3 separate regions of the Homo sapiens genome follow, and all the other regions are linked to region 1. Evidence: fine-mapped expression QTL. A gene starts in region 1. Each other region holds a variant in brackets. All regions are shown on one strand. Distances are from middle to middle.

Region 1 (8,860 bases):
GGACTCACCCAGGCACTCTTTCCTTTTTTAAATTGTGGTAAAAACTACATAACAGTGGCCAGGCGTGATGGTGCACGCCTGTAATCCCAGCTATTAGGGAGGCTGAGGCAGAAGAACTGCTTGAACCAAGGGGGCACCGCTCCTGGCTGTAACATGTTTTCAATATCCCCCCTCTTCGGTGGCACAGGGGCTGGCCCCATATACATGTGCGATGGCAACTGACAGGGTCCCTGATAAACCGGAGTGCTCCAGAAACACCCCATTGCGTGGGACGGAGGATGTTAGGTGGCCCTCCTAGCGTTTGAGTTTGATAAATGAGCAAAGGAAGTGGTTTTTACTAGAAAGCCAGCTTTCCTTTTTTTTTTTTTTTTTTTTCCAGCCAGCAAACCCCAAACAGGAACCTATGGTTGGTGATGGATGTGCGTTCAGAAAGCAGGGAGGGAGGGGGAGTCAGAGGTGAGGGGGTCATCAGCCATAGCTGTCCGCTGCATCACCCCCTCGCTATCTCCAGGAAGCGTTCTGGGCTTTTCCTGTTGTGCAGTGTGGAAGTGCTCTATCTTCATTCATATCAAGGAAAGTCAAAGGACAAACTAAAGCCGGCAGCGTCTTTCTGGCTTCCTAGTCAGGCTGTTCGGTAGCGGAGTGTCACCCTGATTTCCAGCCCCGCAGCACACACAGTGAGAGCCTGCCTGGCGTGATTCAGAGGCAACGTATTTCCCAAGGTGGCTGTGAAGGAACCAGGGGGATAAACACAGCCCGTGAACCGCACGCCAGAGGACAGGTCCGGCTGCCTGCCGCGGAGTCGTCACGGCGTGTCGCGTCTGAGCGCTTCTCCAAAGCACCCAAGTGGCACCCGGGGTGACAGTTACATCATCTTGAGTACAGTTCTCTCAAGGAAAAAGCAAGCCCAGCATCTTCTGCCATGGCAACCCTGGCTTGGAGCCTCCATAAGAGAGAAGGCCCTAAGAATAATACCATTTTCTTGCTCTAAGTTGCTCTTACGGGAAAGAAGTGATAATATTCTTCCTAAACGCCATCATTCGTGCATCCTTCCCACCTATATGTGTCACCGGATCATTCTCCGCCTGGGCGGGGCCGTCCTGTGCACTGCAGAATGCTGAGCAGTGTCCTTGGCTTCGACCGACCACATGCCAGGAGCACCCCAATTTCTGCCATCGGGTGATTGACTTCACTGTTGCATTTGATTTTTTATGTATCTTTTAAAAGGACCCAATAGGGCCAGGCACAGTGGCTCACACTTGTAATCCCAGCACTTTGGGAGGCTGAGGTCGGTGGATTGCTTGAGCCCAGGAGGAGTTCAAGACCAGCCTGGGCAACATAGTGAAACCCCAACTCTACAAAAAACAAATGTTTTATTTTTATTTATTTTAGATGGAGTTTCACTCTTGTTGCCCAGGCTGGAGTGCAGTGGCGCAATCTCGGCTCACTGCAACTTCTGCCTCCCGGGTTCAAGCGATTCTCCTGCCTCAGCCTCCTGAGTATCTGGGATTACAGGCATGCGCCACCACACCCAGCTAATTTTGTATTTTTAGTAGAGATGGCGTTTCTCCATGTTGGTCAGGCTGGTCTCAAACTCCCGACCTCAGGTGATCTGCCTGCCTCGGCCTCCCAGAGTGTTGGGATTACAGGCGTGAGCCACCACGCCCAGCCGGGTTTATAGTTTTATAACCCTTATGACAAATCTCATAGTATTCTGCAGGGATAAGCATGAAACCACTCGTTCAATAAGTGCAAACAAAAACGCCAACAATTCTTAAGACATTTCTAATCTTATTTTACCAATAATTTTAAAGCCAGCTTATGTATTAAAGATTTATAACTACTTTTATTAACACGTTTAAAATTCTATGCAGCTTAAAGCATTTATAATGGATAAAACTGCCAATACTGAGTGCCTGACATAATATTTGAAAGGTGGCAGGCATTCAACCATGGTCACTGAATGAGAGATGTAGGGAAGATGATGGCAGGGAGGTTTTTAGATATCAACACCCTGATAGTTCTCATTTTAACCACCTGTAAGTGCACATACAAGTCAACGGCACTGGCCGGGCGCGGTGGCTCATGCCTGTATTCCCAGCACTTTGGGAGGCCAAATCACAAGGTCAGGAGATCGAGACCATCCTGGCTAACACGGTGAAACCCCGTCTCTACTAAAAATACAAAAAATCAACTAGGCATGGTGGCACGCACCTGTAGTCCCAGCTACTCAGGAGGCTGAGGCAGGAGAATCGCTTGAACCTGGGAGGCGGAGGTTGCGGTGAGCCAAGATCGCGCCACTGCACTCCAGCCTCGGCGACAGAGTGAGACTCCGTCTCAAAAAACCAAAAAACAAAAAACAGTCAATGGCATTAAATATAAATACATTTACAGTGTTGTGTAACCATCACCACTATGGATCCCCCAGACTTTGTCATCATCTTCAACCTAAGCGCTCCCTATTAAATAGTAACTCCCCACTTTTCCCAGGCCTTGGCAACCACCATTCTAATCCCTGTCTCTATGAATTTGACTCCTCTCGATACCTCAGATAAGCGGCACAATGCAGTATTTATCTGTCAAGTCCGGAATATTTCCTTTAGCATAATGTCTTCAAGGTCCATCACGTTGTAGCATGTATCTGAATTTATTCTTTTATAATATTTTTTATTTTTTGGAGACAGAATCTCGCTCTGTCACCCAGGCTGGAGTGCAATGGCGCGATCTCGGCTCACCGCAACTTCCGCGTCCCGGGTTCAAGCCATTCTCCTGTCTCAGCCTCCGGAGTAGCTGGGACTACAGGTGCCTGCCGCCATGCCCGGCTATTTTTTTTTTGTATTTTTTGGGGGTTTTACTGTGTTGCCCAGGCTGGTCTTGAACTGCTGAGCTCAGGCAATCTGCCTGCCTCAGCCTCCTAAAGTACTAGGATTACAGGCATGGGCCACCACGCCCGGCCTTATTTTTATTTTTGAGACAGTCTCACTCTGCCGCCCAGGCTGGAGTGCAGTGGTGCGATCTCGGCTTACCGCAATCTCTGCCTCCCAGGTTCAAGCGATTCTCATGCCTCCGTCTCCCAAGTAGCTGGGATTACAGGCACCTGCCACCATGCCCGGCTAATTTAACGCCCAGCTAATTTTTGTATTTTTAGTAGAGATGGGGTTTCACCATGTTAACCAGGCTGGTCTCGGACTCCTGACCTCAGGTGATCCGCCCGCCTCGGCCTCCCAAAGTGCTGGGATTACAGGCGTGAGCCACTGTGCCTGGCTGATTTTTATTCTTTTAGTTAAGGCTGGTTGATATTACCTTGTGTGTATATACCACATGTTGTTTATCCATTGTTGTTGATGGACATGTGGGTGGTTTCACCTTTTGGCTATTGTGAATAAAGCTGCTATGAACACTGTGTACAAATATGTTAGAGACCCTGTTTTCAGTTCTTTTAGGTGTGTACCCCGAAGTGGAATTGCTGGATTTTATGGCAATCCCACGTTTAACTTCTGGAGGAGCTGCTGGAACTGTTTTCCACAGCAGGGGCGCCATGTTACGTCCCTGCCAGCAATGCACGCGCAGTTCAATTTCTCTGCATACTCACCAATATCTGCTGTTTTCCATTAAAAAAAATTATAGCCGGTCGGGTGCAGTGGCTCATGCCTGTAATCCCAGCACTTTGGGAGACCGAGGCAGGTGGATCAACTGAGGTCAGGAGTTCAAGACCAGCCTGGCCAACACAGTGAAACCCCATCTCTACTAAAAATACAAAAATTAGCCTGGTGTGGTACATACCTATAATCCCAGCCACTTGGGAGGCTGAGGCAGGAGAATCGCTTGAACCTGGGAGGTGGAGGTTGTAGTGGGCCGAGATGGCGCCACTGCACTCCAACCTGGGCAAAAAGAACGAGACTTTGTCTCAAAAGAAAAAAAAAAAATACAGCCATTCCAGAAGGTGTGAAGTCATATCTCACTGTGGTTTTGATGCGTATTTTCCTAGTGACATCAGGGAGTTTATGGGAGCACGGGAACACAGACCAGGCCCCAGCAGGCGGACAAACGGTGCAACGCCAGGCTGGCCAGAGGAGATAAGCGCGGCTCCTTGGAGCTTGTGTGCAAGTCACTGTACTGAGGAGCCGGCTACGGCTCGATGAGTCTCAATTAGGAAAGGCCGGGGCTGGTGGAGGAAGGGAGGAGAGCATTCTTCATCCTCATCACATCCTGAGCCTGTGCCCCAGGCTCCCACCACTTCCCTCCCTGGCCACAGAGCTCAGGACAGGGCTGAGGAACCATGTCTCCATCCCCGACCGCCCTCTTCTGTCTTGGTGAGTCCTGAGGGTCAGATCTGGGAAATGCTGAAGGACAGGCATGGACTGCCAGACAAAGGATTTTTAAGAAATTTGCATTGGTGATGAATTTCAGGACAAAAAGGAACCTGTAAGAGCCCCTTCATTTGTTGGGTGGGGAAACGGGGGGCCAGCGAGCTGGCATTTTGCATGAGTTATTCCAGTGTATTCATGGCTGGGTCAGGAAATGAACAGAGTATCCTAGCATTGGTCACAACTTTGTTCTACTACACTGCAGTTGCCCCTTTTTTAAAAAATGTGGGCCAGGCACAGTGGCTCACGCCTGTAATCTCAACCTTGGGAGGCCGAGGTGGGTGGATCACCTGAGGTCAGGAGTTCAAGACCAGCCTGGTCAACATGGTGAAACCCCATCTCTACAAAAATTAGCCGGGCGTGATGGCGGGTGCTTGTAATCCCAGCTACGTGGGAGGCTGAGGTGGGAGAATTGCTTGAAACTGGGAGGCAGAAGTTGCAGTGAGCTGAGGTCAGGCATTGCACTCCAGCCTGGGCAACAGAGAGAGCCTCCATCTCAAAAAAAAAAAAAAAAAAAAAAAAAAAGGCTGAGTGCCATGGCTTACACACTTTGGGAGGCCGAGGCGGGTGGGCCATCTGAGGTCGGGAGTTTGAGACCAGCCTGACCAACATGGAGAAACCCCATCTCTACTAAAAATACAAAATTAGCCGGGTGTGGTGGCACATGCCTGTAATCCCAGCTACTCTGGAGGCTAAGGCAGGAGAATCGCTTGAACCTGGGAGGTGGAGGTTGCGGTGAGCCAAGATCACACCATTGCACTCTGGCCTGGGCAACAAGAGCGAAACTCCGTCTCAAAAAAAAAAAAAAAAAAATTGTGGAATTGATATCTGGACTAGGTATGGATTTAATTTGTCAGTATCCCCTACAGTAGTGGAGTAAATAGTCTCCTGATGGATGGGTGGCAGGTCGAATGCATTTCTGCTGCCTGATCTTCACTTGTGCTGGGCATGTCGAATGCATTATTTCCTGATTTCTTCAGAATTTGACCACTAAAGGGACAGCATCTCCAAAAGGCTAAGCAGGAAGAAGATGGTTGCATTACTGGAGATGAGAGGGTTAACTGTGAATATAAACAACCTCTCATTCATTATCCATCCATGGATGTATTCTTTTTTTCTTTTTGTTTGTTTTTTGAGATGGAGTCTCGCTCAGTCGGTCGCTCAGGCTGGAATGCAATGGCATGATCTCAGCTCACTGCAAACTCTGCCTCCCGGGTCCAAGTGATTCTCCTGCCTCAGCCTCCCGAATAGTTGGGATTACAGGCATCTGCCACCAGGTCTGGCTAATTATTGTATTTTTAGTAGGGGCGGGGTTTCACCATGTTGGCCAGGCTGGTCTCAAGCTCCTTACTTCAGGTTCCACCCGCCTCGGCCTCCCAAAGTGCTGGGATTACAGGCGTGAGCCACCGCACCCAGCCTGTTTTAACTTTTATTTATTTAATTTTATTTGAGATAGGGCCTCACTTCTGTCACCCAGGCAGGAGGGCAGTGGCATGATCATGGCTCACTGCAGCCTCAACCTCCCAGGCTCAACCAGTGCCTCCCCATCAGCCTCCTGAGTATCTGGAACTACAGTTGTACACCATCATGCCTGGCTTGTTTTTGTAATTTTTTTAGTTACGGGGGTCCGCTATGTTGCCCAGGCTGGTCTTGAACTCCTGGGCTCAAGCGATCCACCCACCTCGGCCTCCCAAAGTGTTGGGGTTACAGGTGTGGCCTGTACAGGTTACTGCATCTGGCTTGTTGCTTCAGTAGCTTTTGGGATACAAGTGGTTCTTGGTTACATGGATGAATTATATTCTGGTGAATTCTGAGATTTTAGTGCACCTGTCACCTGACTAGTGTACCTTGTACCTAATGTGTAGTTTTTCATCCCTGCCCCACTTCTGCCCTTCCCTTCTGAGTCTCTGAAGTCCATTACATCACTCTGCATGCCTTTGCATACCCACAGCTTAGCTCTCACTTATAAGTGAGAATATACAGATTTTTGTTTTCCACTCCTGTATTACTTTACTTAGAATAATGCCTTCCAGCTCCATCCAAGTTGCTGCAAAAGACTTTTTTTTTTTTTTTTTAAAGACGGAATCTCGCTCTCTCACCAAGGCTGGAGTGCAGTGGTGTGATCTCGGCTTACTGCAAACTCCACCTCCCGGGTTTAAGTGATTCTCCTGCCTCAGCCTCCCGAGTAGCTGGGACTACAGGCACCCGCCACCATGCCCGGCTAATTTTTGTATTTTTAGTAGAGATGGGGTTTCACCATGTTGGGCAGGATGGTCTTGATCTCTTGACCTCGTGATCCACCCACCTCGGCCTCCCAGAGTGCTGGCATTACAGATGTGAGCCACTGTGCCTGGCCAAAAGACATTATTTCACTCCTTTTAATGGCTGAGTAGTATTCCACGCTCATTTATTTTTATTTATTTTTATTTTTTGACATGGAGTCTCACTCTGTTGCCCAGACTGGAGCGCAGTGGCATGACGTTGGCTCACTGCAACCTCCACCTCCCAGGTTCAAGCGATTCTCCTGCCTCAGCCTCCCAAGTAGCTGGGATTACAGGCTCCTGCCACTACGCCCCGCTAATTTTTGTATTTTTAGTAGAGACAGGGTTTCACCATGTTGGTCAGGCTGCTCTCGAACTCCTGACTTCAGGTGATCCGCCCACCTTGGCCTCCCAAAATGGGATTACAGGTGTGAGCCAGCGCGCCCGGCCGGTGAGAACATTTAAAATCTACTATCGGTGATATGCAAGTGTACAATATGTTGTTATTAACTACAGTCACCATGATGTGCAGTAGATCTCCAAGACATACTCCTCTTGTCCAACTGAAACTGTCCTCCTCTGACCAACATCTCCCCAAACCTTACCCCACCGCCCCGGTAACCACCACTGTGCTCTCTACTCCTGTAAGTTCCCAAGTCCACACTCTTTACCACTAATTGGTGCTGCTAGGGTTTGAATCTACTCCTGCCAGCTGTAGGACTGTGGATAAGATACTGTCTCACTAGCCTGATGTATAAGAGGGGACTGATAATGGTGGGTAACCCGTACGATTATGGCGACTTGGAGTCCATGCACAGAAGGCGCTCAGCACGGCGCCTGGAAGACTCCCAGCCATGGTACAGCGTCGCATGGAAACCTACAAAGAGGCTGAGGTGGGCTGTGATGCGGCAGGAGGAGGGGGACAGAGAAGCGGCCGGAGCTTGCGTTGGGGTGCAGAGGGAGCCTGGGGTGGACAAAGGGTGGTGGCTATGGGGGCGCTGGTGACAAGTTGTCACTCTCTGAGCTCAGAGTCAAGACATGAGCTGGGTTCACCCACTTCTTGCTATGTGAGCTACACAAGGTTGCTTGGCCTCTGCCCAGTTTCCTTATGTTTACAGTGGGAATGACAACTATCCCGCCTTTGTGTGTGTGTGTGTGTGTGTGTGTGTGTAAGAATGAGGGTTACCAGATAAAACACTGGATGCCTGGTTAAATTGGAATTTCAGATAATTAGTACTTTTTTTTTCCTCCTCCTCTTCGTTTTCTGAGACAGGGTCTTGCTCTGTTGTCAGTCTGGAGTGCAATGGGGCAATATCATTTTTTTTTTTCCTCGAGATGGAGTCTTGCTCTGTTGCCCAGGCTGGAGTGTAGTGGCGTGATCTTGGCTCACTGCAACCTCCGCCTCCCGGGTTCAAGTGATTCTCCTGACTCAGCCTCCCCAGTAGCTAGGATTACAGGCACGTGCCACCATGCCCAGCTAATTTCTGGTATTTTTAGTAGAGATGGTGTTTCACCATGTTGACCAGGCTGGTCTTGAACTCCTGACCTTGTGATCCGCCCACCCTGGCCTCCCAAAGTGCTGGGATTATAGGCATGAGCCACCGTGCCCGGCCAGTGGTGCAATCTTACCTCACAGCAGACTTGACCTCCTGGGCTCAAGCAATTCCAGGAGGGGATCGCTTATGTACATGTATTTGTATACATATGTATACACACACACACACACACACACACACATGCATACATATATACATATACATACATATACACGTGTGTATGTACACACGTGTATATGTACATACACATGTATGTATAGATGTAGGTTTACATATATGCACTATATGTGTATATACATATAGTAATCAGATCAGGGTAAGTAGCACACCCATCTTCTCAAACATGCATCCTTTCTGTGTTGGGAACTTTCCCCATCCTCCTTCAGGCTATTTGAAACGATTATTATATATATTATATCCTATCATGTAATCATGGAATACTGATTCAAGCAAATGTTGTAAATACCGGGAAACCCATGGCCAGCACATGCTGAGACGTCCTGACTTACACGCTGAGGCTCCATCCTGCTCCATCCTTGGAGCCCAATGCATCCCATTAGTGTGGGGTTTTATCGCATATATTACATAGACAATAAAATACAATAATATACAATATGCAATAGTATTTACAATACTTGTCTATACAATTGCATACTATTGTAATGTACTTGGATAT
Region 2 (11,047 bases), 350 kb after region 1:
ATCAACAAACCAACAAACACAAGTTAGAGAAAGGGGCATGTTGCCCATTAAGTCATAGAGAAAACATACAAATACATTTAAATTATACCAAATAAATCATGTAAGCAGGAGTGAGAATGACACAATTATGGTAAATAATGGAGACGAGAAAATACCTGTGAGTCCTAGACCCGTTGTGATTACGGGCCCCATATGTCCTTCAGTAACTACAATCATTTATGAAAAAGTAAATACTGGTCTTTGTTTCTTTTATCGAATTCTTTGTTTTTCTTATGGAAACACAATTAGGAAATAATGAGGCTATATTTTACTTTCTGGGATGGTGACAGGAAATTCCTCACCTCACGCTCCCGTGGCTAGGATCTCAGCTGTCAGAACAGACCAAGCGTTCACCACTTAGGGGCTGAGAGGAGGAACAGTTTCAGAAAGCTTTGGCTTCAGAACCCAGTGAATCTGGAGCAGATGAAAAGGTTTCGGAACTCTGAAAGCGCTTTTAAATACGGTTAAGGATCAGAGTTGCATTTATTAGACATGAACACCCATATAGTCCCTGATTATTCCTGCTCTCTAAGCCTTGACAATTCTTAGTCACGTTTTGTAAAAGTGAGATTTATATTTTTCTAAATGAAAGATATAATTTACCTTCTTCACGCCGATCTGAGAAATTGTCTATAGACATATATTACTGGTGAAATCAAGTGCATTCGGCTCCCCGGAACCCATAAGAAAGGAGATGAAAGTGTACCGTTTTGCAATCATCACAGAAGGTTTTCAGAGACGTACAGCCATTGCCAACCAAAGTGCAGCATGCAGCCACCAGAGATATTTCAAATGTCCTAAGTACCAGTTGCCATTAGACAACAGGTGTGTGAACAGGAGCCAAGACCTGAACACACTCTTACCCCTCGTACAAAGAGGAGAGCTAAGACTATGAGGTTTGGTATATTTATTCAGACAGAGTCTTTCAGATGGGGCTATGACAGAGAAGGTAAACAGGAGATGCCAGGCAGCCCTGAGTGGGAAGGCTGGGGTGGTTCTGTGTCTCAGGAACTCTCAGAAAATACCCCTGCCCCATGTTTCTTTTCCATGTTCAGTTTTGACCTTAGGGGAAATAGACCGGGATGTTTACACCATATATATATATATATATATATATATATATATATATATATACACACACACATATATGTTGCAACAAATATTCTACATCTCTAAGAATATGGCTCTCTAACTGAAAGAAGGTCCACTTACCAAATGCAGTTTCTTGCTGGGAAAGCAACTGCCATAGTCACAGTCTAAGCACCTCCACAAAAGGGGGCATCTTAACCCTGAGATAAAGGCTTAAGACTACCATGAGATCCTTTTCTTGCCGGGAAGTGATTATCATTTCATCTGCAAGTACAGTGACAGTGTTTGCATAGGGATTTCAGTTGATCTAGAAAAACATCCGTGAAATGTTCAAATTACTGAAAGCTATTCGTAGCTATTAGTTTTAGTCGACTGAGAAAGTTGGAGCAAGAAAGAGAGAGATGGAAAGAAACAGAACAATAGAGAGACAGAGACAGGAAGAGACAGAGAAACTTAGAGAGGAAATCATATCTGGGAAGCTTGAAGTAGACTAGGTAGAGACGGCATTGCAGCCAAGGACATTGAGATCTAACTGAGAGAAGGAAAGTAAGGATAAGGCTGGGGTTTGTTTCTTGCCAACCTTAAGGTTTTGCCTCCCCCAAGAATATTTTTCCATTCTGAGGACTTTGCACTAAAGGCAGCCTGGAAGGGAGAAAAAAAGAGAGAATCAAGTAGAAATCATTTGCTCCAGTGTTAAAAATAAACTTGGAAGAAGTGGAGACACTTTTATTCACTGTTTTCATGGGCACACATTAAGTATCTAATGGGTCAAACGTGATTCTTGGTGTATAAGATGTATCAGAAAAAAGACAGAAAGACTTCTAAAAAAGTGTCTGTATTGAATCAATATTATAGTTGAGAAAGATGGATATTAGACAACAACAAAAATTAATAGAAAATCCAATATGTTATAGGATGATACATGTCTTGTGAGCAAAATAACAATAAAGTAATAGCAGAGAGCTCCCCTGAGCAAGAAGAAATTCTTCCAGCAGATTGTCTTTGGATTTTTTAGTTTGCTACAACTCTTTCCTGAGTCTCCAGGATACTCTACTGTCCTGCAGATTTTGGACTCACCAAGCTCCTACAATCACATGAGCCAATTCCTAGGTAAATGAATAGATAAACAAATAAATAGATAGATAGATAAATAGATAGATACATAGATACATGGATAGATACATAGATAGATACATAGATACACAGATAGACACATAAATAAACATTCTGCTGGTTCAATTTCTCTGGAGAACCCTTGAAAAAAAAATCATTTTGGTTCCAGGGATGATTCCAAAGGAACAGAATTTTTAAGGATGAGTTTTCTGAATTGGATCCAAAGTTTCTGAAATCGGCTTTCTAATTTGATTAGATTTAAAAACACTAATGACTCCATTTCCAGTAGTGTTGATAGTGCATAACATGATGTGGCCATAGGGATACACCAAATGTCATCATTGGAAACGCCTAACAAACATTTATAAGAATCTGAGTGGGCCGGGTGCGGTGGCTCACCCCTGTAATCCCAGCACTTTGGGACGCCGAGGCGGGTGGATCACGAGGTCAGGAGATCGAGACCATCCTAGCTAGCACGGTGAAACCCCATCTTTCCTAAAAAAAAAAAAAATACTAAAAAATTAGCCAGGTGTGGTGGTGGGCGCCTGTAGTCCCAGCTACTTGGGAGGCTGAGGCAGGAGAATGGCATGAACCTGGGAGGCGGAGCTTGCAGTGAGCGGAGACCATGCCACTGCACTCCAGCCTGGGCGACAGAGCAAGACTCCGTCTCAAAAAAAAAAAAAAGAATCTGAGTGATCATGTACATAATACTTTTGAATGTTTTTGAAAACTAATGAGCATAATGAGATTGGCTGGGTTGTCACTGGACAAAGTTGGGGAAAGAAGAGGATGAATTCAAAGATTTGAATTTTCAGTTCAAGTGCAAACATAAATGAGCTAAGACTTCTATATCTGCCCTAAAAGATACTCATCATTTGTAGCCACAGGGCTGAGGCCTTTGAAAAGTCAAACCTGGGGCCAGGTGCGGTGGCTCACGCCTGTAATCCTAGCACTTCGGGAGGCCGAGGTGGGCAGATCATGTGAGGTCAGGAGTTCGTGACCAGTCTGGCCAACTTGGCGAAATCCCGTCTCTACTAGAAATACAAAAATTAGCCAGGTGTGGTGGCTGGTGCCTGTAATCCCAGCTACTCAAGAGGCTGAGGCAGGAGAATTGCTTGAACTCAGGAGGTGGAGGTTGCAGTGAGTCGAGATCGTGCCATTGCATTCCAGCCTGGGGGACAAGGGCAAGACTCTGTCTCAAAAAAAAAAAAAAAGAAAAAGAAAAAGCAAACCCAGAAACTCACCCTTCAAGTGGCTAAATTACAATACAAATGGAATTCCCAGCCTCAAAGGGTGTCTACTTTAAGGGTATTGATTCGGAAGGTGTGGAATCTTGACATTTGGAATAGGGATGTGTGAAAGACACTGATGAAGGTAAGGACAGTGAGTTCCTTAATCATGCTCTTTGACAATGGAAGCATTCTCTCCCCGTGCATCTGAGGAGATTAACCCTGCACTGTCTGAGGAAACAATAGTGGCCTCCGCGGAGGCAGTTGCCATGCAAGACAGTGCTAATTTTCCTCAGGATCCGCCCCCACTACCCATCTTTGCTTCTAAGCCATAGGTTCAATGTGTGATCCATGGGGAAATGTGCTACACTCCAAAGTGACTACTAAGTTCTTCTGATTTATACACCTAGAAATCTAGGGAACATGTGTGCGAATGGACATTAAGGGTGTTGGATAATGGTGAAAGGAAGATAAAGTTGAGCCAGGCCAATGTTATTGATATGGACCTACTAAGGAGAGATCCTGCATTTAATGTTGCATCTCAGTGAGCTAGACATGGCTCTAACAGTTTGTCTGGTTCATTGGCTAAAACATGGAACAAACGTTGGCCCACAGTAAGAGGGGCCATATTGTATTCATAATGCACATTCCTAGAGAAATAAACAGATAGCTAGATAGACAGAGGATAGGTATATACATAAATAAACATCTGATTGGTTCCATTTCTCTGAAGAAAACTCTTGCAAAAACAGATTTTAGTCTAAGGGATAATCGCACTCAAACTTTATTGCACTCATAATATACACTCATGAGCAGCCAAGGAAACTCAGTATTCTGTATGACGAAGGAAGTTCCAGGATGCTTCCCTCTTGGCTTCCTGTCTGCCTACCCTGGTGTAGAGTACAAAAATAATTGCCTATTTAGATAGCAACATTCCATGGTCCAGCTAGACGTCATCAACCTCTTGAGCTTCCCCACATCCTGTTCAATTTTGGCTCCTATTCAAGGTCTCCAACAGACCTGGCCCTGTATCTAGACACCATTCCTATTTCCTCTATCAGGCCCCAGCCCCAGGAGAGTGGCTCCTGTGGTCGCTGTCCACAGCACTGACTGGGATGTTGCCATGAACTCTAGTTTCAGCACCATGGTCAGAGTCCAGGAAGCAACAAGGCTTCCACTGTTTTCTGGTGTGTTAGTTGATACATTTGTATGAGCTGGGCCCCCTCTTAGAGACTCCTAAATAGAGATTCCCTGAAGGTGTCTAATAAATATTTAGCGAATGCATCAGAATAAATTGGAAAAAGACACATCCACTCCATGGATTCTGAATAGGAATGGAATTCAGAAGCTTATGATGTTAGCCGCTCACCCAGCAGGACAACCACTAGCACGGCCCAGGGTGGCATTTAGAGTTGGCTCTTCCTCATCCACCTCAGGTCATCTCTTTCCAGACCATGTTCAGGAAACCAGTTTATAGGGTATTGACTAAAAAGCAACAGGCTTGGGGCCAGACACAGTGGCTGACGCCTGTAATCCCAGCACTTTGGGAGGCTGAGGAGGGATGATCATGAGGTCAGGAGATGGAGACCATCCTGGCTAATATAGTGAAACCCTGTCTCCACCAAAAATACAAAAAAAAAAAAAAAAAGAAAATTAGCCAGTCGTGGTGGCGGGTGCCTGTAGTCCCAGCTACTTGGGAGGCTGAGGCAGGAGAATGGTATGAACCCAGGAAGCAGAGCTTGCAGAGAGCTGAGATCACGTGACTGCACTCCAGCCTGGGCAACAGAGTAAGACTCGGTCTCAAAAAAAAAAAAAAAAGCAACAGGCTTGGAGTTACATCACAGTACTTTCAAAACCTACATCTGCCTCTTGCTATCTCTGTCTCCTTGGGAAAGTCACTTTGCCTCTCTGAGGCTCACTTTGCTTTTCTATAAAATTGCAATAATAAAAATGTCTTCTTTGTAAGGATATTTGGTGGGTTGACAATCAGAGATTATTATATTCTACCTCTCATAGGAAGCAATCAGTTGAACTAACAGGGAAGACTCTGGAGCCAGGAAGCCTGAGATTTGATCACAGCTCTGCCCCTTTTAACTTCGTGAGTTAGGGAAAGTTACCCACATTGCTATTGTGTCATATATAAACTTAGTATAGTGCTAGTATCTACCTTACATGGTTTTGGTGGGGAACTACATAGTTAATACATGTGATGTACAAAGTGAAATTCTACCATGTTCTTAGCAGTCATTCAATAATGTGGGCTATTTTTTACTATGATTATTATTTTCATT[A/G]TATGCCTAGAGATAACCTGATGAACTATGCTCAGTAAATGACAGCTGCTTTTATGAAGAATTGCTAGAATTGCTGTGAAGGTTCTTAGGCATCTGACACATTCCCTGGTTTATGTTCTAACATTCTAGACTCTCCATCTGAGGTTTATAGACTCTTTATCAGCCCTGAGGGATGCAGGTATTTGTTTATTACTAGATTCATGCAGAAAACATCCCCTGGGTCTCTGGCGTGCCATATCCCATGCAGGAAATGGGTGATGTGAAAGATGGATATTAGAAGCTTAGAATATCTTAGCTTAGTTTAGATAGCTAAGCTTCTAAGCTTAGATTAGAAGATAGCTTAGAAGACTATAGCTTAGGTAGCTTAATGGCTTAGAATCTTCTAAACTTATTAGAAGATAGTTTGGAAGCTTATCTAGCTTAGATAGTTTAGAAGAAGCTTAGCTATCTTCTTAGCTTAGCTTAGAAGAAGCTTAGCTATCTTCTTAGCTTAGCTTAGAAGATAGCTTAGAAAATAGCTGCATTTTTTAATAAATAGCTTAGAAGGTATATAAGCTCTGGGAAACTTTGTAATTTTGAGTTGGTCTGGCAATGTTTTCCAGGCCTTCTCCCTGTAACCGGTAACAGAAATAAAAACTCTCTCCCTCCCCAGTTCATCCGCATCTCATTATTGGGCCATGAGAAATAGCAGCCCCACCCTCAGTTTGGTCTGGGAACACTTTGGGGGTAAGATTAGGACTGTAACCCGCAAGTGTTCTTGGGGCAAACAGGGTCACTCTCTGTCAAAACATCTGAGTCATTTCTCCTTCCTTACTACCTCTTTTCTTCCCTGCTCACAGCCCTCAGCTGATACCATGGATTCTGTCTCCATGCTTTGGGCAAGAGTGATCCCTGGAGGAAATGAACAGGTGTTAATGTAAGACATGAGGGTGGAATTTACTGATGGTTGACCTTGATCATGTAACACCTCTTTCCCATTTTCCTCCTTATAGAAGAAGATAATGACCCATATCTCAGGGTTGGTTTGAGGATGAGTATTGCCTGAGACATGTAAGGCTCTCAATCTCGTGTAATCTCTTTTACCAGATCCAGACACGTGGTGTAAGAGCCTTTATGTTCCAAAGGTAAGTCAGGAACAATCCGTCATCACGGGTGGAATGGTAAAGTGTCAGAAAAAGTTACAGACTGCAGGAATCCTGGAGCTCATCCCGAATTCTGTACTCAGCCACATTAGAATTTAAGATGTAAGGTGAAAAGATCAGCTTCATGTCTGAACACTGTGGGACTTAGGACGTCTCTCACTTATTAGGAATCCTACCTCACATTAAAAAAAAAAAACACTGGGTCATGTTGCAACTTTTTAAGATAAAAGAAATCTGCATAGAACCATGCTCTTTTTTCTTAAATTTCCATTCACTGAAGTAAAATACAGATAATGTAAAATTGACCCTTTAAAAGTATACAACTCTAGGCCGGGCGCAGTGGCTCACGCCTATAATCCCAGCACTTTGGGGGGCCGAGGCGGGTGGATCACCTGAGGTCAGGAGTTCAAGACCAGCCTGGCCAACATGGTGAAACTCCGTCTCTACTAAAAATACAGAAAAATTAGACAGGTGTTGTGGTGGCCACCTGCAATCCCAGCTACTTGGGGGGCTGAGGCAGGAAAATCGCTTGAAACTGAGAGGCGGAAGTTGCAGAGACGCGAGAATACACCACTGCACTCCAGCCTGGGCAATAAAAGTGAAACTCCGTCTCAAAAAAAAAATACATATATATATATATACAACTCTGTGGCATTTAGTAGATTTTCATTGCAGCAACTGCCACCTCTAGTTCCCAAAGATTTTCATCACCCCAAAAGGAACCCCGTTCCACGGAGCAGTCCCTCTCCTCTCCCTACCCCTGCTCAGCCCCAGGCAACCATCAATCTGCTTTCTGTCTCTGTGGATTTCCAGCTGCTGGACATTTTATATAAATGTAATCATATAGTATGTGACCTTTGGATCTGGCTTCTTTCACTTAGCTTCATATTTTGAATCTCCAAATTGCAGCATGCATCAGTACTTCATTTTTATGGATGAGTAAATTTCTAACATATGGATGCAACACGTTGGTTGGTGGACATTTGTGATACTTTTATCTTTTTATTGTGAATAATGCTTCTATAAACACTTGGGCACAAGTGTTTGGATATTGTCCAATGAGATAAGTCTCTTATCATTTCAGGAGATTTATTTGCCAAAGTTAAAGATGTGCCTGGGAGACAGATCTATGCCTTTCTCTGAAGATGATTTTGAGGGATCCAAATTTAAAGGGTAAAGGGCGGGATATTGAGAAGCACACAATTTTCATGTAAGAGGAGGGTAAGGAAAAATAGTTACGCATGCCTTTGTCTAGCTCAGTGAATCTGTATTTTTTTTAAAAATAGTCATTCATGCCTTTGTCTGGTTCAGTGAATCTGCACTTTTTACATCAGACGACAAAAACAAATGGGGCAGAGGAAAATATGCAGTGAATCTGCATTTTACATAAGATAAACATAGACAAAATTGGGTGGGGGAATGATCAGATATGCATTTGTGTCTGATGGGCTGGGGAGACTGTACCTGGAAAGATAAGTTATCAATATACACTGGAAAGATAAGCTATCAATATACACTGGAAAGATAAGCTATCAATATGCATTGGAAAGATAAGCTATCAATATACACTGGAAAGATAAGCTATCAATATACACTGGAAAGATAAGCTATCAATATACATTGGAAAGATAAGCTATCAATATACACTGGAAAGATAAGCTATCAATATACACTGGAAAGATAAGCTATCAATATACACTGGAAAGATAAGCTATCAACATACACTGGAAAGATAAGCTATCAGTATACACTGGAAAGATAAGCTATCAGTATGCACTGGAAAGATAAGCTATCAGTATACACTGGAAAGATAAGCTATCAATATACACTGGAAAGATAAGCTATCAATATACATTGGAAAAGATAAGCTATCAATATACACTGGAAAGATAAGCTATCAATATACACTGGAAAGATAAGCTATCAATATACACTGGAAAGATAAGCTATCAACATACACTGGAAAGATAAGCTATCAGTATACACTGGAAAGATAAGCTATCAGTATGCACTGGAAAGATAAGCTATCAGTATACACTGGAAAGATAAGCTATCAGTATACATTGGAAAGATAAGCTATCATACACTGGAAAGATAAGATATCAATATACACTGGAAAGATAAGCTATCAGTATACACTGGAAAGATAAGCTATCAATATACATTGGAAAGATAAGCTATCAATTTACATTGCCATGGTGAAATTTTAACAGCTCACTAGGAATCTTCTTGTGGGCAAAACGTGGGGGAGGCATGTAGCTTTTCACCTTGTAGCCATCTTATTCACGAACCAAAATGGAGAGGCAGGTTTGTGTGACCCAGTCCCCAGCTTGACTTTCCCCCTTAGCTAAATGAGTGTGGGGTCCCAAAATTTAATTTCCTTTCACAATATCTACTATCAGTCTTTTTTTTTATTGTGGTAGGAAGAGTTAATTCTCCTACCAATTTTTAACTTCATGATGCAGTATTGTTAACTAAAGACAAAATGTTGTAGGGTACATTGCAAACTTCATTCGTCTTGTATAACCTAAACCTTTAGTCACATACCTAGAAGTGAAATTTCTAGATCATAGAGTAATTCTAGGTTTATTTTTTATTTTATTTTATATTATTATTTTATTTTATTTTATATTCAAAAGGTACATGTGCTTGTTTGGTGTATGTATGTGTGTGTGTGTATATATATATATAAATAGATAGATAGATTTTTTTTTTTTTGAGATGGAGTTTCACTCTTGTTGCTCAGGCTGGAGTGCAGTGGTGCGATCTCGGCTCACCGCAACCTCCACCTTCCAGGTTTAAGCAATTCTCCTGCCTCAGCCTCCCGAGTAGCTGGAATTACAGGCATGCACCACCATGCCCAGCTAATTTTGTATTTTTAGTAGAGATGGGGTTTCTGCACATTGACCAGGCAGGTCTCGAACTCCTGACCTCAGGTGATCCCCCCCATCTCTGCCTCCCAAAGTGCTGGGATTACAGGCGTGAGCCACCGCACCCAGCCCTAATATATTTTTTTAACCTCTTGCCCTCCTCCCACCCTTCCCCCCTTTTGGGTTTCCCTGTGTTTATCTCCATCTTTATGTCCATGAGTGCCTATTGTGTAGCTCCCACTTGTAAGTGAGATCATGCAGTGTTTGGTATTCTGATTCTGAGTTAGTTCACGTAGGATCATGGCCTCCAGCTCCATCCATGTTCCTGCAAAGGACATGATTTCACTATTTTTTATGGCTATGCTGTATTCTGGGCTATATATTTACCACTTTTACTTTATCCATGCCACGATGGATGGACATCTAGGATGGTTCCATGACTTTGCTATTGTGAATAGCACCACGGTGAACATACGAGTGCGTGTGTCTTTTTTAATATAATTATTTCTTTTACAGTAGTGGGATTGCTGGGTCAAACGGCAGTTCTGTATTTAGTTCTTTGAGAAACCTCTATGCTGTTTTCCATAGAAGTTGAGCTAATTTACCACCAACAGCATATAAGCCTTCCTAGGTTCATCTTTTAAGGAACTGTCAAACCGCTTTTTTCTTTTTCTTCTTTCTCTCTTTTTCTTTCTTTCTTTCTTTTCTTTCCTCTCTCTCTCTCCCCCTCCGTCCCTCCCTCCCTCCCTCCCTCTCTCTCTCTCTCTCTCTCTCTCTTTCTTTCTTTCTTTTTGATGGAGTCTGGCTCTGTCACCCAGGCTGGAGTGCAGCGGCACGATCTCGGCTCACTGCAACCTCTGCTCCTGGGTTCAAGCTATTCTGCCTCAGCCTCCTGAGTAGCTGGGATTACAGGCACCTGCACCGTGCCCAGATAATTTTTGCACTTTCAGTAGAGAAGGGGTTTTGCCATTTTGGCCAGGCCGGTCTCAAACTCCTGACCTGAGGTGATCCTCCTGCCTCGGCCTCCCAAAGTGCTGGGATTACAAACGTGAACCACCACGCCCGGCCTCCAAACCACTTTTCACAGTCACCGAAAAATTTCACAATCATGCCAGCAGTGCGTGAAGGTTCTCTTTCCGCACACCCTTCCTGACATTTGTTATTTTTCAGAATATGGCCAATCCAGTGTTTGAAGTAGTGTCTCACTGTGGATTCCTATGAATTTTTATAATAAGTAATGGTTTGGGTGTCTTTTGATGTGCTCACATTTATTC
Region 3 (9,530 bases), 54 kb after region 1:
AGAATCACTTGAACCCGGGAGGCAGAGGTTGCAGTGAACCAAGATTGTGGCACTGCACTCCAGCCTAGGAGACAGAGCAAGACTATATCTTGAGAAAAAAAGAAAGAAATTAGTGACCCAAATCTTTAATTCACCCAATATTCCCCCTCACCCTGCATCCCATTATTCTCAGGCAAAAAGAAAAGAGGGTAATTGCAACGGTTAGTAATGATAGCAGCCACTATTGAATGCATGGGCTTGGTTTCATTCAACCTTCCAATACCTGTAAGATGTACAGCATCCTATTCAACTAAGATCCCATTAAGCAGCCTAAGATTGTATCAGTAGAGCCAGAGCAATCAATTTTTTTTCTGTCCTCGAGATGGAGTTTTGCTCTGTTGCCCAGGCTGGAGTGCAATGGCGTGATCTTGGCTCACTGCTACCTCTGCCTCCTAGGTTCAAGCAATTCTCTTGCATCAGCCTCCATGAGTAGCTGGGATTACAGGCACGCGCCACCATGCCCAGCTAATGTTTTTGTATTTTTAGTAGACGTGGGGTTTCACCATGTTGGCCAGGCTGGTCTTGAACTCCTGACCTTGTGATCCACCTGCCTTGGCCTCCCAAAGTGCTGGGATTACAGGCATGAGCTACCGCACCCAGCCAAGATTTTTTTTTTTTTTTTTGAGACAGTCTCACACTGTTGCCCAGACTGGAGTGCGGTGGTGTGATCTCAGCTCACTGCAACCTCCGCCTCTCAGGTTCAAATGATGCTCCTGCCTCAGCCTCCTGAGTAGCTGGGACTACAGGCGTGCGCCAACATGCCCAGCTAATTTTTGTATTATTAGTAGAGACAGAGTTTCACCATGTTGACCAGGCCGGTCTTGAACTCCTGACCTCAAGTGATCCACCCACCTCGGCCTCCCAGGCGTGAGCCACTGCGCCTGGCCCAGGGCAATAATTTGAGGCCAATGACCACCTACTACACCAGTGTGGCCAAGTGAGGCTTCATGGAACCCCATGATGCATGTAGGTTCTCATCGCCTGGGCAGCCACTGGACAGCTTCCCAAGGGGAGAGCTCTCAAACCAGAGGACTAACAGAAAAGGGGCAACTTGATGTTCCTGAAGGGTTCTTGCTTGAAAAATGTCAATAGCTGGTATTCTGAATCATCATACAGGAGAAGCATGAACCATGAGTGAATGATCTCTGATAGAAGATAAAGATTCTGGGCTGGGCACGGTGGCTCATGCCTCACTTTGGGAGGCCGACGGCGGGGTGGGGTGGGGGTGGGGGGGTAGATCACCTGAGGTCATGAGTTCGAGACCAGCCTGGCCAATGTGGTAAAACTCCATCTCTACTAATAATACAAAAATTAACCAGGTGTGGTGGTGTGCACCTGTAATCCCAGCTACTCAGGAGGCTGAGGCAGGAGAATCACTTGAACCTGGGAGGTGGAGGCTGCAGTGACCTGAGATCATACCAACGCACTCCAGCCTGGGTGACAGAGCGAGACTCCATCTCAAAAAGAAAAAAGAAAAAGAAAAAACCAAAACCAAAACCAAAACATAAGGACTCTGGCTGGGCATGGTGGCTCATGCCTATAATCCCAGCACTTTGGGAGCCTGAGGAGGGCAGGTCACCTGAGGTCATGAGTTCGAGACCAGCCTGGCAATGTGGCGAAACCAGCTCCACTAAATGCACAAAAATTAGCCGGGCGTGGTGGCGGGTGCCTGTAATCCCAGCAACTTGGGAGGCTGAGGCAGCAGAATTACTTGAACCCAGGAGACAGAGGTTGCAGTGAGCCAAGATCGTGCCATTGCACTTTGGCCTGGGCAACAGAGCAAGACTTCATAAAAAAAAAAAAAAAGATGATAAAGATTCTGGGAGTTTCTTTGGATTCAGGGTCCTCACGTATGGTTGTCCAGGGTGTTTACTGTTCAAGGCAAGTAGAAACTCAAGTTCAGCCCATGCTGCATCCTGGGTCATCTGCCCTTAGTACTGTTTCTAGTCAGAATAACGAACTTTTTCTTATTTACACAAAATTGCCACATAAGCTTGTGGTAGCTTATGTTTGTATGATGAAGGATTTTAATGATTAAGAGATATACCCGAGATATCGCAGGTTACATTCTGGATGTCTCAAGACCTCACACAATGCGGGAAACATATCATCCTGGTCATTGCCTTGAAGGGTCAGATACGTTACAGTCTTGTGACCTCGAAGAGCTAGGCAGAGGTTCCGATGAGCATCAGCTGGGGAAATGTTTTTGAACCTAGGGAAAAGAGAACGAAAGTGAAATCTTTAGTGTGTACACCTGTATCGTACTTAAATGGAAACCAGGGGCTCGATATATTTAAACTTTAGGAACTATTTTTTCCATGTTTAAATTTTTGTCCATCTTTACAGATTTTTTTTTTCTTTGAGATGGAGTCTCACTCTGTTGCCCAGGCTGGAGTGCAGTGGCGCGATCTCGGCTCACTGCAAAGCAAACTCTGCCTCCCGGATTCAAGCGACTCCTACCCTCAGCATCCGGAGTAGCTGGGATTATAGGCACCTGCCACGACACCTGGCAAATTTTTGTATTTTTCGTAGAGACAGGGTCTTGCACCATCTTGGCCAGGCTGGTCTTGAACTCCTGACCTCAAGTGATCCCCCCACCTTGGGCCCCCAAAGTGCTGGGACTACAGGCGTGAGCCATTGTGCCCGGCCCTTTTTTTCTTTTTCTTTTTTTTTTTTTTTTTTTTTGAGACGCAGTCTCGCTCTGTCACTCAGACTGGAGTCCAGTGGCAGGATCTTGGTTCACTGCAACCTCCGCCTCCTGGGTTCAAGTAATTCTCCTGCCTCAGCCTCCCAAGTAGCTGATATTACAGGTGCCTGCCACCACGCCTGGATAATTTTTGTATTTTTAGTAGAGGCAGGGTTTTGTCACGTTGGCCAGGCTGGTCTCGAACTCCTGACCTCAAGTGATCTGTCTGCCTCGGCCTCCCGAAGTGTTGGAATTACAAGTGTGAACCACCATGCCCAGCCCCTAGAAATTACTTTATACGATTATCCCACAAAATAAATTTAAGGACAGGACTCTCTCAATTCCCTGTGTCTCGAGCACTTAAGAGTCTAGTACAGGAATCTGAATATTGCTCCGATGTTAACATTGTACCATTTTCATACCCTAAGGATTTGAGTTCATGAATTAGTTTCTACTTACACCACTCTCTGGAGATGACAGGTGTCAGAGGCTATTTGTTCACACAGGATCCTTACTAGGGAGGCACTGAGAAAGCTATCATTGATTGCTAGACCCATCAGATCCTTATTTGATCCAAATATGGAACAAAGGTCCGTCCAGAAAGGAAGCATGTGCTGATCATCCTGGGATCTATAGGGAAGAGAAGAAAGGGTTACACCAAATGTGTGTCCATCACGGCTGAAGTATTTAGGGTTTCTCTGGGCATATACCCCTGACAAATGAGTACAATTGAAAGCTGGACCATGTAATCACTTATTAGCACCACCATCAGACAACTCAACACCCAAGAAGCATCACAGGAGAAAGAACCTATTCTTCTTAGACAAAAATCCAATAGAGGGTAAAAATAAGTTAAAATGCTAAGCACATCATTGATAAAAGATAGAGAATATAGACCGGGCACGGTGACTCACGCCTATAATCCTAGCACTTTGTGAGGCTGAGGCGGGTGGATCACCTGAGGTCGGGAGTTCGAGACCTGCCTGGCCAACATGGTGAAACCCCGTCTCTACTAAAAGTACAAAAATTAGCTGGGCATGGTCGTGGGTGGCTGTAATCCCAGCTACTCATGAGGCTGAGGCAGGAGAATCATTGAACCTGGTGGGGCGGAGGTTGCAGTGAGCCGAGATCGAGCCACTTCACTCCGACCTGGGAAAAAGAGTGAAACTCCGTCTCAAAAAAAAAAAAAAAGATTGGGAATATACATATCTATACATATCAATAAGAAATATTCAGGCAGGGCGTGTGGTAACTCATGCCTGTAATCTCAGTGCTTTGGGAGTTCAAGACCAGCCTGGACAACATAGTGAGATTTTGTCTTTCCAAAAAAAAAAAAAAAAAAAAAAACACAAAAAAAAACCCCCACTTAAGTTAGCTGGACATGATGGTGCACACTTAATACCTGTCATCCCAGGTACTCAGGAACATCACTTGAACCCAGAAGTTTGAGGATGCAGTGAGCTGATTTCACCACTGTACTCCAGCCTGAGCAACACAGCAAGACCCTGTCTTAAAAAAATATATTTGGGCCGGGCATGGTGAATCATGCCTGTAATCCCACTTTGGAGGCTGAGGCAGGTGGATCACCTGAGGTCAGGCGGAGTTCAAGACCAGACTGGCCAACATGCTGAGATCCCGTCTCTAATGAAAATATAAAAATTAGCCGGGCAAGGTGGCAGGCGCCTGTAGTCCCAGCTACTCAGGAGGCTGAGGCAGAAGAATCACTTGAACCCGGGAGGCGGAGGTTGCAGGGAGCCAAGATCGCGCCACTGCGCTCCAGCCTGAGCGACAGAGCAAGACTCCATCTCAAAACAAAAACAAACAAAGAGTCCAACAAGAGGGAATTCCTGACCCTAAGCCACAGTGCATAGGAGGCTCTGGCCTCTTCCTAAGGGGGCATGGGATGAGGCTAAAGATGGAACGACTGGTAGAGTGAAACGGTTCTCACCTCTCAACCTCGGCGTCTGATTCAGACGCAGTGACATTCTCCGGGAGATTCTCCTTTATTACCTGCAGTGACATTTTCTGCAGGTTTCGACAGTGCTTGACGCAGAATGAAGATGGCACAACGTCTACTGCATTTAAGTGCAGGGATATTTCTTTGAACTGAGCCATCACCTCCTTCACCAGCTCCTCCTCCTGAGACTCGTACAGACAGCCGAG[G/C]AGCTCCTGCAGGTCTGTCACCGTTGAATGTCCACCCTTACAACTTATGTCGCATCGCAGCAATTCCTGTTTGATGTCCGGTGACATCCGGCAGCCAAAAGTGGCCTCCAACTCCTTGGCTCTCTTCTCGTTAGCGAGGCCAAAGGAGTAGTAGCCTGCTTGGATCAGGTCGGGGTTCCTGAGTCTTTCTACTCCGGAAAGCAGCTTCTGTACGTCCCCAATGTCCCAGGTGTGGCCGTCCCTATCCTCTTCCTCCTCCTTCTCCAGGGTGTAGAACAGGGCAGTGAGAAACTGCTGGAAGCTGAGGTGGATGAAGGAGTAGCAGCCTTTGGAGACTCTGTCCTGGCGGAGGATGTCTCCGTCCAGGAACAGACGGAGGTCGGACTCCTGCACCCCGAGCCTTTCCAGATCCTCTCGGTGAAGCACGGACGTCTGCGCCCACAGGCCCTGCGCGGCCAGGAGGCTCAGCGTCCGCAGCGCGCCCCGCAGCTGTGCGCCCTGCGGGAACCGGCTGCAGAGGAAACGCAGGAACAGCCCCGTGCGGGTGAGGCAGGTGGGGACCGGGTCCTCCCCCTTCTCCATCTGCAGCTTCAGAGTCGTGCACACGATCCAGCACACCGCGGGGGCCGAGCCCAGCTGGAACAGGGCCGCGTTGCTCCTCATTAGCTCAAAGGCACGCATGGCTTGGTCCTCGTCTCCAAAGTGTCTCAGGAAATAGGCCCTCCTGTCCTCCTCCAGGAAGCCCTCCACCCTTATGTAGATCGGCTCCTCCGCCAGGATCCGGAGGTCCCTCAGGGCCCTGGGCCGCGTGGTGACCAGCAGGGCGGCCTTGGGTAACATCACCCTGTTCAGCAAACTCCCCAGGAGGACGGGCACCGGCTTCTTCTTCTCCCAGTCCCCGCAGATGTCCTCGATCAGCGCCCCAGGTGCGGCTCCCAGCTCATCAAAGCCGTCAATCACGAACAAGATTTTCCGTGCTTGGGCTAGGATGTGTGGAATGTCATCCTGCAATTCAGGCCAGTCCCTGAAGACCAGCTCTGCAAAACTGCACGGGCCCAGGCGGCTGAGCTCCCTGCAGCTGAGGTAGAACGCATATTTGAATTTGTGGATGAGGTTGTCCTCTGCCCAGTCTAGCATTAGTTTCTGGGCCAGCGTGGTTTTCCCAAGGCCTGCAGGACCATACAGCACCACCGTGTATGAGAAGGGCCCGGGAAGCACCCTGGGGTTGCTGAATGGGATCAGCATCTTGTATCTCTCAGCCATAACCTGGACCTCTTTGCTATCTCCAGGCCAGCTCTTCCACATCTCCCGGAACTTCGTCTTCAATATATACCTGCACCTATTGTCTTTGTCTTTATCATTGGTGAGGAGGGAAGGGAGAGAGGATGCAATCAGTTACCCATAGGGAAAACCAAAATAACAAAATGCCTTGTGTTGGCCGGGCACAGTGGCTCATGCCTGTAATCCCAGCCCTTTGGGAGGTCGAGGCAGGCAGATCACCTGACATTGGGAGTTCAACACCAGCCTGACCAACATGAAGAAACCTTGTCTCTACTAAAAATAAAAAATTAGCCAGTCATGGTGGCGCATGCCTGTAATCCCAGCTACTCGGGAGGCTGAGGCAGGAGAATTGCTTGAACCTGGGAGGCGGAGGTTGCAGTGAGTCGAGATCACGCCACGGCACTCCAGCCTGGGCAACAAGAGCAAAACTCCGTCTCGATACATACATACATAAATAAATGCTTTGTGTTACATAGGAAAGTTAAGAGGACTTCAAGTTTATAAAGAGAAATCTGATCCCAAGCTCCCTGCAGGAAGATATGGTACAGACCTGGCTTTTTTCCTTTAAAGACTTCTTTACCCAGGCAGATGACATTTCCTTTCGTTTCTGTAAACGCTACAAAATACAAACTCATGTGAGATTGACACAAAATCAGGTGTATTTCCTGTGGAGTCCCAATTAGAGAAAAGGAGGCAGGCTGATGGGGCGGGGGGGAGGGGGGGCACGGGATCAGATAAAGCAAATAAGCTACAAATGTGTTTTCCGGCCAGGTGTGGTGGCTCATGCCTATAATCCCAGAACTTTGGGAGGCTGAGGTGGGGTGGATCACTTGAGCTCAGGAGTTCGAGACCAGCCTGGCCAACACAGAAACCCCATCTCTACTAAAAATGCAAAAATTAGCCAGGCGTGGTGGCGCATGCCTGTAATCTCAGCTACTTGGGAGGCCAAGAGGCTCGAGAATTGCTTGAACCTGGGAGATGGAGGTTGTAGTAAGAGATCGCACTACTGCACTCCACCCTGGGCAACAGAGCAAGACTCCATCTCAATAAAATAAATAAATAAGCTTTCCTCCATGGTTCAGGGCATACAAACAAGAGGAAACAGGTCAGCTATAGGTCTGTTTGAGACAGTCTCACTCTGTTGCCCAGGCTGGAGTGCAGTGGCGCAATCTCAGCTCACTGCAACCTCCGCCTCCCGGGTTCAAGCGATTCTCCTGCCTCAGCTTCCCAAGTAACTGGAATTACAGGCATGTGCCACTGCGTCTAGGCTAATTTTTGTATTTTTAGTAGAGATGGGGTTTCGCCATGTTGGCCAGGCCAGTCTAAAACTGCTGACCTCAGATGATCCACCCACCTCAGCCTCCCAAAGTGCTGGGATTGCAGGCATGAACCACTGCACTGGGCCAGGTCTGCTTTTATGGTCCAGGAGATACGGCCCAAGATGTTTGGCCTTCCTGGCCAGATCACACACAGAGCTCACAAACTCCCTGTTTGCCATGAAACGCCTCAGTTTATCAAACACTTCTGCTGAAAGAAGACCGCAAGTTAAACCCCCTGTTGACATTATCAATCAGCCCAAGCCCTATTCTATAAAATCTGCAGGAAGCTTTGGTCTCCTGGCAGTGAGCTACTCATGACAACCTGCCCGCTGGGGTCTCTCTGCCAATGTCTTTTCCTACTTTCTCCAATAAATCTGCCTTCCTTTACCTACGATTGTCTTCATAAATTTCTTTACCCGCGGCTGGGCGCGGTGGCTCACGCCTGTAATCCCAGCACTTTGGGAGGCCAAGGCGGGTGGATCATAAGGTCAGGAGATCGAGACCATCCTGGCTAACACGGTGAAACCCTGTCTCTACTACAAATACAAAAAATTAGCCGGGCGTGTGGCGGGCGCCTGTAGTCCCAGCTACTGGGGAGGCTGAGGCAGAATGGCGTGAACCCGGGAGATGGAGCTTGCAGTGAGCCGAGATTGCGCCACTGCACTCCAGCTTGGGTGACAGAGCAAGACTGTCTCAAAAAAAAAAACAAAACAAAACATTTCTTTACCTGCCATGCCACCAGGCACTATTCACCCACATTTCCTGCTGAAGCATGATGATAGAGCAGGCACCACAGTACCCCAAGTCGCACCGAAATTCTTTGTCAAGATTGTGTGCTAGGCTGGGCACAGTGGCTCACGCCTGTCATCCCAGCACTTTGGGAGGCTGAGGCGGACGGATCACGAGGTTAGGAGATCCAGACCATCCTGACTAACACGGTGAAACCCTGTCTCTACTAAAATACAAAAAATTAGCTGGGCGTGGTGGCACACACCTGTACTCCCAGCTATTTGGGAGGCTGAGGCAGGAGAATCGCTTGAACCTGGGTAGCAGAGGTTGCAGTGGGCCAAGATTGCACCACTGCACTCCAGTCTGGGCAACAGAGTGAGACTCCATCTCAAGAAAAAAAAAGATTGTGTGCCAGGAATGACATTGGCCGTGTCTAGAGAGATGAACAGGGCAAACAATTCCTTCAACCAAGTTACTCACCTCTATTATACAGAGCCATAGCAAGAAATACTTGCTGTATCAAAAGTCAATGTGGGCTAGGTACGGTGGCTCATGCCTGTAATCCCAGCACTTTGGGAGGCCGAAGTGGGTGGATCACCTGAGGTCAGGAGTTCAAGACCAGCCTGCCCAACATGGTGAAACCCTGTCTACTAAAAATAAAACTAACAAATGCAAAAATTAGCCAGATGTGGTGGTGGGCGCCTATGATCCCAGCTACTCGGGAGGCTGAGGCAGAATCACTTGAACCTGGGAGGTGGAGGTTGTGGCGAGCCGAGATCACACCATTGCACTCTAGCCTGGGCGACAAGGGCAAAACTCTTTCTCAAGAAAAAACAAAAATGCTACCAGGAAGATAAGAGGGAATGTGGAGTAAGCAAGGCTGATCTGAAACTGATCACAGGCTAGGTGCGGTGGTTCACAGCTGTAATCCCAGCACTTTAGGAGACCGAGGTAGGTGGATCACTTGAGGTCAGGAGTTCTAGACCAACCTGGCTACCCTGTTGAAACCCCATCTGTACTAAAAACACAAAAGTTAGCCAGGCATAGTGGTGGGCACCTATAGTCCCAGCACCTGGGGAGGCTGTGGCAGGAAGACCCCTTGAACCCAGGAGGCAGAGATTGCAGTGAGCCAAGATGGGGCCACTGCACTCCAGCCTGCATGACAGAGTGAGACTCTATTTCAAAAACAAAAAAAACAGAAAAAACCTATCACAAAGTCAGCTCAGGCAAGTCACCTACCCAAAAGACTCAATTTTCTCTGTAAGTTGTTTATATTAAAGTTGTCTGAGCAATGTACCATAAATACATTTATG

Evidence for each region. PIP is the estimated chance that this variant, and not a neighbour inherited with it, causes the effect.
Region 2: its variant is fine-mapped to the expression of GP6 in prefrontal cortex (GTEx, PIP 0.95).
Region 3: its variant is fine-mapped to the expression of GP6 in lymphoblastoid cells (TwinsUK, PIP 0.95).

The regions. Positions count from the first base shown.
Region 1 is chr19:55,033,656-55,042,515 of GRCh38, reverse strand. It overlaps GP6 (glycoprotein VI platelet), which reads left to right and starts at 4,252. Exons shown (of 8, transcript NM_016363.5): 1 at 4,252-4,313. The coding sequence starts at 4,280. The region is part of intron 2 of GP6-AS1 (GP6 antisense RNA 1); the gene reads right to left. It also overlaps a transcript of RDH13 not described here.
Region 2 is chr19:54,678,186-54,689,232 of GRCh38, reverse strand. No RefSeq gene overlaps it. Among named protein-coding and RNA genes, the nearest start is that of LILRB4, 21 kb to the right of the region's middle. RefSeq lists a silencer at 4,491-4,691. The variant A/G (reference allele first, on the strand shown) is at 5,762.
Region 3 is chr19:54,978,872-54,988,401 of GRCh38, reverse strand. It overlaps NLRP2 (NLR family pyrin domain containing 2), which reads right to left. Exons shown (of 13, transcript NM_017852.5): 5 at 6,720-6,785; 6 at 4,674-6,240; 7 at 3,185-3,355; 8 at 2,087-2,251. Among named protein-coding and RNA genes, the nearest start is that of NLRP2, 17 kb to the right of the region's middle. The variant G/C (reference allele first, on the strand shown) is at 4,889.